2 linked regions of the Homo sapiens genome follow. The protein of the gene in region 1 interacts with the protein of each later gene in a biochemical or structural test. Each region holds a gene or a part of one and is shown in the gene's direction. Other genes may lie near its edges.

What was found. The genes of interacting proteins can lie anywhere in the genome.
Region 2: of the proteins of POLD1 (region 1) and CCNE1, one has a biochemical effect on the other in vitro, tested with the Homo sapiens proteins (one study listed by BioGRID).

Annotation. Positions count from the first base shown.
Region 1 is NC_000019.10:50,401,347-50,404,846, forward strand, and holds part of POLD1 (DNA polymerase delta catalytic subunit), read left to right. Parts: intron 1-431; coding exon 432-578; intron 579-652; coding exon 653-778; intron 779-858; coding exon 859-1,027; intron 1,028-1,107; coding exon 1,108-1,189; intron 1,190-1,265; coding exon 1,266-1,395; intron 1,396-1,706; coding exon 1,707-1,873; intron 1,874-2,146; coding exon 2,147-2,251; intron 2,252-3,500. UniProt on the Homo sapiens protein: As the catalytic component of the trimeric (Pol-delta3 complex) and tetrameric DNA polymerase delta complexes (Pol-delta4 complex), plays a crucial role in high fidelity genome replication, including in lagging strand synthesis, and repair.
Region 2 is NC_000019.10:29,818,491-29,821,990, forward strand, and holds part of CCNE1 (G1/S-specific cyclin-E1), read left to right. Parts: intron 1-2,211; coding exon 2,212-2,358; intron 2,359-3,231; coding exon 3,232-3,327; intron 3,328-3,500. UniProt on the Homo sapiens protein: Essential for the control of the cell cycle at the G1/S (start) transition.

The DNA of each region.
Region 1 (3,500 bases):
GTGTGTATTTGTGTATATGTGTATATATATATATATATATATATATTTTTTTTTTTTTTTTTTTTTTTTCTTTTTTTTGAGACTGGGTCTCGCTCTTTTGCCCAGGCTGGTCTCAAAGTCCTGGGCTCTAGCGATCCTCCCGCCTTGGCCTCACAAAGCACTGGAATCACAGGTGTGAGTCACTGTGCACGGCCAGTTGTTTTTATCTTGTAATAAAAAAGAAGGGCCTCCCTGTAGTTGTGCTGTGGAGAATGGATCCTGGGGGATGAGGCTGGAGATGGGAACCAGGGGGGAGGCTGAAATGGACACAGGGAACGGTACAGGGGCAGGAGTGCCCCAGGCTGCAGGCCCCAAGGTATTTCGAGGCTGTGGAGACACACCTTGGAGGACCCTGAGAGGCATGGCCGCTGTCTTACCCTGTGACCCCACAGGCCCAGCGCAGCCTGTGCCTGGGGGGCCCCCACCATCCCGCGGCTCCGTGCCTGTGCTCCGCGCCTTCGGGGTCACCGATGAGGGGTTCTCTGTCTGCTGCCACATCCACGGCTTCGCTCCCTACTTCTACACCCCAGCGCCCCCTGGTGAGTGGCCCCTACCCAGCCCCTCCCTGAGCCACTGGAGCCCCCTGCACCTCTGATCATCCCTCCCACACCAGGTTTCGGGCCCGAGCACATGGGTGACCTGCAACGGGAGCTGAACTTGGCCATCAGCCGGGACAGTCGCGGGGGGAGGGAGCTGACTGGGCCGGCCGTGCTGGCTGTGGAACTGTGCTCCCGAGAGAGTGAGTGCTCCCCCAGGATCAGCGGGTTGGAGGGTCCCCTCGGGAGGCCATTGGCTGGTCCCAGCTTCTTCCATCCACAGGCATGTTTGGGTACCACGGGCACGGCCCCTCCCCGTTCCTGCGCATCACCGTGGCGCTGCCGCGCCTCGTGGCCCCGGCCCGCCGTCTCCTGGAACAGGGCATCCGTGTGGCAGGCCTGGGCACGCCCAGCTTCGCGCCCTACGAGGCCAACGTCGACTTTGAGATCCGGTACGGCCTCTGCCTCACTTCTCCGGCCTCTATCCCCACCCTCGGGCAGCCCCTGTCCACTGACCCCCAGCCCCCTCCAGGTTCATGGTGGACACGGACATCGTCGGCTGCAACTGGCTGGAGCTCCCAGCTGGGAAATACGCCCTGAGGCTGAAGGAGAAGGTGCAGGGCTTCCCAGGGCAGGGCTGGGTGGGGAGCTGGTACCCTGCTGCCACCGCTGACCCACCCATGCCCACAGGCTACGCAGTGCCAGCTGGAGGCGGACGTGCTGTGGTCTGACGTGGTCAGTCACCCACCGGAAGGGCCATGGCAGCGCATTGCGCCCTTGCGCGTGCTCAGCTTCGATATCGAGTGCGCCGGCCGCAAAGGTCTGTCCCCGGGCCCGGGCTCCTGCCCGCCTCATTGATGTGCCAAGTCGGGGGTCGGAAAGGCAGGTCCGGTGGAGGGAATGGCAAGCATGAAGGTGCCGGGGCAGGAGCACCCCAGCCCATGTGGCCAGATGGAGTGAGCACAGAGGGTGTGGAGATGGCCTGGAGGTGAGAGCAGAGCAGGAGCCAGGGTGAGCCACGTAGGGCCGGCAGGCAGCGGGGACAGCCCCGGGGAGATGGCAGGTGCAGCCTCCCTGCTGTGTTGGGAGTGAGGGGCAGGAGTCAGGCCCCTGCATCCTCCTGCCTCGCAGGCATCTTCCCTGAGCCTGAGCGGGACCCTGTCATCCAGATCTGCTCGCTGGGCCTGCGCTGGGGGGAGCCGGAGCCCTTCCTACGCCTGGCGCTCACCCTGCGGCCCTGTGCCCCCATCCTGGGTGCCAAGGTGCAGAGCTACGAGAAGGAGGAGGACCTGCTGCAGGTAGCTCTCGCTCCACGCCCCACACCATTTCCCGGGGTCCCCGCCAGCCTCCGCGTCCTGAGCCATCAGCTCCTGGGTGCTGCGACGCCCATGTCTGTGGGTCTGGGTGGGTGTCTGTGGGTCTGGGTGGGCCCCTGTGCAATTAGGCTTGAGCACTTCCCCTCTGGGTTCTGCAGGATTTTCAGGGGTGGCTGGGGTTCTAGAACATTCTGGAAGTAGGGGAATCCGAGGCAGGGCAACCACCAGGGTGACCCAATGTGCTCCCACCCCCAGGCCTGGTCCACCTTCATCCGTATCATGGACCCCGACGTGATCACCGGTTACAACATCCAGAACTTCGACCTTCCGTACCTCATCTCTCGGGCCCAGACCCTCAAGGTGAGGGCTGGGCAGGTGGGAGGCTTCTCTCAGATGCCCCAGGTGTGGCCTCCGGGCCCTGGGCCTCCTTCCCACTCCCTCTCCACATGGCTTGGTGCATCTTGCTCTGTGTGCCTCAGCCGATTGCCTGCAGGGGCAGCCTAGGCCTGGTCCTGCCCTGCTCCAAGTCGAAAAAGTTACTGTGGCTTTTATCAGAGGCAAGGAGGGCGTTACGGTGGAGTAAGAGAAGGCTGTGCATTCAAGGTCGGCCTGAAGCTTGCAGGGGTTCAACAAGCCATGAAGCAGCCACTGAATCCCAGTCTTCCTTTAGGTTATATCAGCATAAGGAAAAGAATCATAATGGAGGAGGAGGGGGGAGTGTGTTGACTGATGGGGCAAATTCCGGATGCTTCTTGAGTCTGCATGTGTGTAAGGGTGGATTCCTCTGCCCGAGTTGCTGTAACAAAGAGCCACAGACCAGGTGGCTGAAAACAGCAAAAAGTCATTGTCTCACCGTCCTGAAGGCTGGAAAGTCCATGACCAAAGTGTCAGCGGGCCTGCTTCCTTCGGGGGCTGCAAGGGAGGACTGGTTCACGGCCTCTCTCCTTGGCTTGCAGACGGCCATCATCCCCCTGTGCCTCTTCACACCGTCTTCTCTCTGTGCGTGTCTGTTTCCACATGTCCTCCCTTTTTTTTTTTTTTCCAAGACAAAGTCTCGCTCTGTCGCCCAGGCTGGAGTGCAGTGGCGCAATCTTGGCTCACTGCAAACTCCGCCTCCCAGGTTCATGCCATTCTCCTGCCTCAGCCTCCCAAGTAGCTGGGACTACAGGCGCCCGCCACCACGCCTGGCTAATTTTTTGTGTTTTTAGTAGAGACGGGGTTTCACTGTGTTAGCGAGGATGGTCTTGATCTCCTGACCTTGTGATCCGTCTGCCTCGGCCTCCCAAAGTGTTGGGATTATAGGCGTGAGCTACTGCACCCAACCCCTTTTCTCTTTCTTTTTTTTTTTTTTTTTTTTTTGAGACAGAGTCTCGCTGTGTCGCCCAGGCTGGAGTGCGATGGCACGATCGAGGCTCACTGCAACCTCCACCTCCCAGGTTCAAGCGATTCTCCTGCCTCAGCCTCCCAAGTAGCTGGGATTACAGGCGTGAGCCACCACGCCCCGCAAATTTTTGCTTTTTTGTTATTGTTTCTTGAGATGGAATTTCGCTCTTGTTGCCCAGGCTGGAGTGCAATGGCACGATCTTGGCTCACCACAACCTCCGCCTCC
Region 2 (3,500 bases), about 21 Mb from region 1:
ATATATCACCTGTTTTATAGCTACTGTCATAAATTGTAAACATATATGAACAAGCTTATCTTAAACAGGTCTGACATTGCTCCTTTTTAACTTCTTGGAATCCATTCCCTTTTCCACCATTCCCATTTATTCTAATAAAATATATTGTTCAAATCCTGGCTGGGCACAGTGGCTCATGTCTGTAATCCCAGCACTTTGGAAGGCCAAGGCAGAAGGATCCCTTGAGCCCAGGAGTTAGAGACTAGCCTGGGCAACATAGCGAGACCCCATGTCTTTTTTTTTTTTTTTTGAGACGGAGTTTCGCTCTTGTTGCCCAGGCTGGCATGCAATGGTGTGATCTTGGCTCACCACAACCTCTGCCTCCCGGGTTCAAGCGATTTTCTTGCCTCAGGCTCCCGAGTAGCTGGGATTACAGGCATACGCCACCACGCCCGGCTAATTTTGTATTTTTAGTAGAGACGGGGTTTCCTCCATGTTGGTCAGGCTGGTCTTGAAGTCCCGACCTCAGGTGATCCGCCCGCCTTGGCCTCCCAAAGTGCTGGGATTACAGGCGTGAGCCACTGCGCCTGGCCCTTGAGACCCCATTTCAACAAAAAATAAAAAATTGTCAGGGTATAGTGGCTCAGGCTTGTAGTCACAACTACTGGGGAGGCTGAAGTGGGAGGATTGCTTGAGCCTGGGAGTTGGAGCTTGCAGTGAGCTGTGATAGCGCCACTGCACTCCAGCCTAGGTGACCATGAGACTCTGTCTCAATTTTTTTTTTAAGCATATTTTTAAAGATATTTGGACCATTGGAGTGGCTTCTGTGTTTTGAGACAGAGTTGCTCTGTCACCCAAGCTGGAGTGTAGTGGTGCAGTCACGGCTCACTGCAGGCTCCAATTCCTGGGCTCAAGCAGTCCTCCCACCTCAGCCTCCGCAGTCCTTGGGACTACAGGCATGAGCCACTACTCCCTGCCGATTTTTTATTTTTTGTTGAGTTGGGGTCTTGCTATGTTGCCCCGGCTGGTCTCCAACTCCTGGGATCAAGGGATCCCCATGCCTTGGCCTCCCAAAGTGCTGGGATTGCAGGTGTGAGCTACAGCACCCAACTCAAATCTTTTCTTGGTCCACACTATTTTATTTCTCTTTAACAGTTAATCAAAAGAACAAGTATAACAACATTTGATAGATAATGGTTAAACATAAAAGATGAGATTTTATTGGTTGTATATCTTACTGGGATGAACTGCGGTAGCTTATAGTTTCTTGATTAAGGGAAGCTTCCTAGACAACCTTGTAAGACTTGAATGGGTGAGAAGTGGGCTTTTCTTCTGAAGTGGAAGGACATCTCAGGCAGACCTGCTTCATGAAAACATGTAGAAGTTGAGTGTGTAACTACAGAAGTACCCCTCATCCTCGGGGGTACATCCCAAGACCCGCAGGAGATGCCTGAAGCCACAGATAGTACTGAGCTCTAGATATGCCATGTTTTTAATCCTCTACTTTCATGTTTTCACTTAAAGAAAGCACTTCACGGCTTCTCTTTGGCATTTCCAAATAGCCAGCATCACTACTCTTGCCCTGTGGGGCCATTATTCAGTCAAATAAGGGCTGCTTGCTTGAACACCAGCACTGCTGTGCTGTGACAGTCCATCTGATGACCTGTGTGCTAGTGAGTGACTAACAGGCAGGTGGCCTACTCCACGGGGATGTGCGGGCAAGGGGATGATTCACATCCTAGGCAGGTGAGGGTGGGACAGGCCAGAAGGGCCCCTCATTTAAAACCTATCAGTTGTTAGGCTGGGCACAGTGGCTCATCCCTATAATCCCAGCACTTTGGGAGGCCGAAGCAGGTGGATCACTTGAGGCCGGGAGTTCAAAACCAGCCTGGCCAACGTGGTGAAATACCATTTCTACTAAAAATACAAAAATTAGCTGGGCATGGTGGCGGGTGCTGGTAATTCCAGCTACTCGGGAGGCTGAAGCAAGAGAATCGCTTGAGCCTGGAAGTTGGAGGTTGCAGTGAACCAAGATCACAACACTACTTTCCAGACTGGGTGACAGAATAAGGCACCTCAAAAAAAAAACAAAAAAACAAAAAACTATCAATTGTTGAGTTCAGGAACTTTGCATTTTATATTTTCCTTCACCAAAGTCATTACAAGTTTTTTTTTTTTCCCCTCCCTCAAGTAAAACTTACTTGTGCTAAAACTTACTAAATATGTTTTCAGGTGTGTGAAGTCTATAAACTTCACAGGGAGACCTTTTACTTGGCACAAGATTTCTTTGACCGGTATATGGCGACACAAGAAAATGTTGTAAAAACTCTTTTACAGCTTATTGGGATTTCATCTTTATTTATTGCAGCCAAACTTGAGGTAAATAATTTTCAAATATTTGTTCTATAATGTGTGTTATTTCTCGAGCTCCACTGAGATTGGGGGAAGAGGTTGGCGCTTAGCCTATAGCACTCATCCTAAATTTTTCTGATTTGCTACCCTGTAAAGTTAAGACACATGCCAAAAAGAAAAAAAGGCTGGAAAGTGACCAGGAAGAGAAAAGTAGTGAGGGTATGGAAGACCTAGGTTCATGTAGTTACATTGAGCCAAAAAAAAAAATGAACTTTGAACTAAGATAATAATTTTGGGCCCGGGTTGGTGGCTCAAGCCTATAATCCCAGCACTTTGGGAGGCCAAGGCAGCTGGGTCACTTGAGGCCAGTAGTTTGAGACATGGTGAAATACCATTTGTACTAAAAATACAAAAAATTAGCCAGGCGTGGTGGCACGTGCCTGTAATCCCAGCTATTCGGGAGGCTGAGGCAAGAGAATTGCTGGAGCCCAGGTGGCCGAGGTTGCAGTGAGTCGAGATCCTACCACTGCACTCCAGCCTGGGCAACAGAGGGAAATTCTGTCTAAAAGAAAAAAGAAAAGATTAAAAATTTGTGTATGATTATCAAAGGGTATATGGGCCCAACTTTCAAATGTGTTAAAGGTACTGAAAAGGGGATATTTCAAGAGTACCCACAATGAGTCAAAGTTCCATCCATTTATTTAATGGTGGGTGGGAGTTGTGTTCTTTTTTTTTTTTTTTTTTTTTTTTACAACCATTGGTGTGGCTTCTGTGTTAATTCCATCAGTGCGCCCTCTCTCTTTCCATGCCAGGGTACTGAGAAGTCATTTTGGATGCATTATAAATTGAGACTGTTAGAGATTGGCTTTGGTGCTAGTGCCATCTTTTATTTCCTTTCAGGAAATCTATCCTCCAAAGTTGCACCAGTTTGCGTATGTGACAGATGGAGCTTGTTCAGGAGATGAAATTCTCACCATGGAATTAATGATTATGAAGGTGGGTTCCAGTGAATTTTCCGGCCATTTTTTAAATGCGTACGGCAGATCTTTTCCACCTGAAGTGTGAGTGCCTCTGGGAGGTGTTCTCCAGCTGGACACATTGTGGCATGGAACATGGCTGCATTTTGAACTTCTTTTCTCAATCATCGGTCTCTTTTCTCTCTGTTTTCC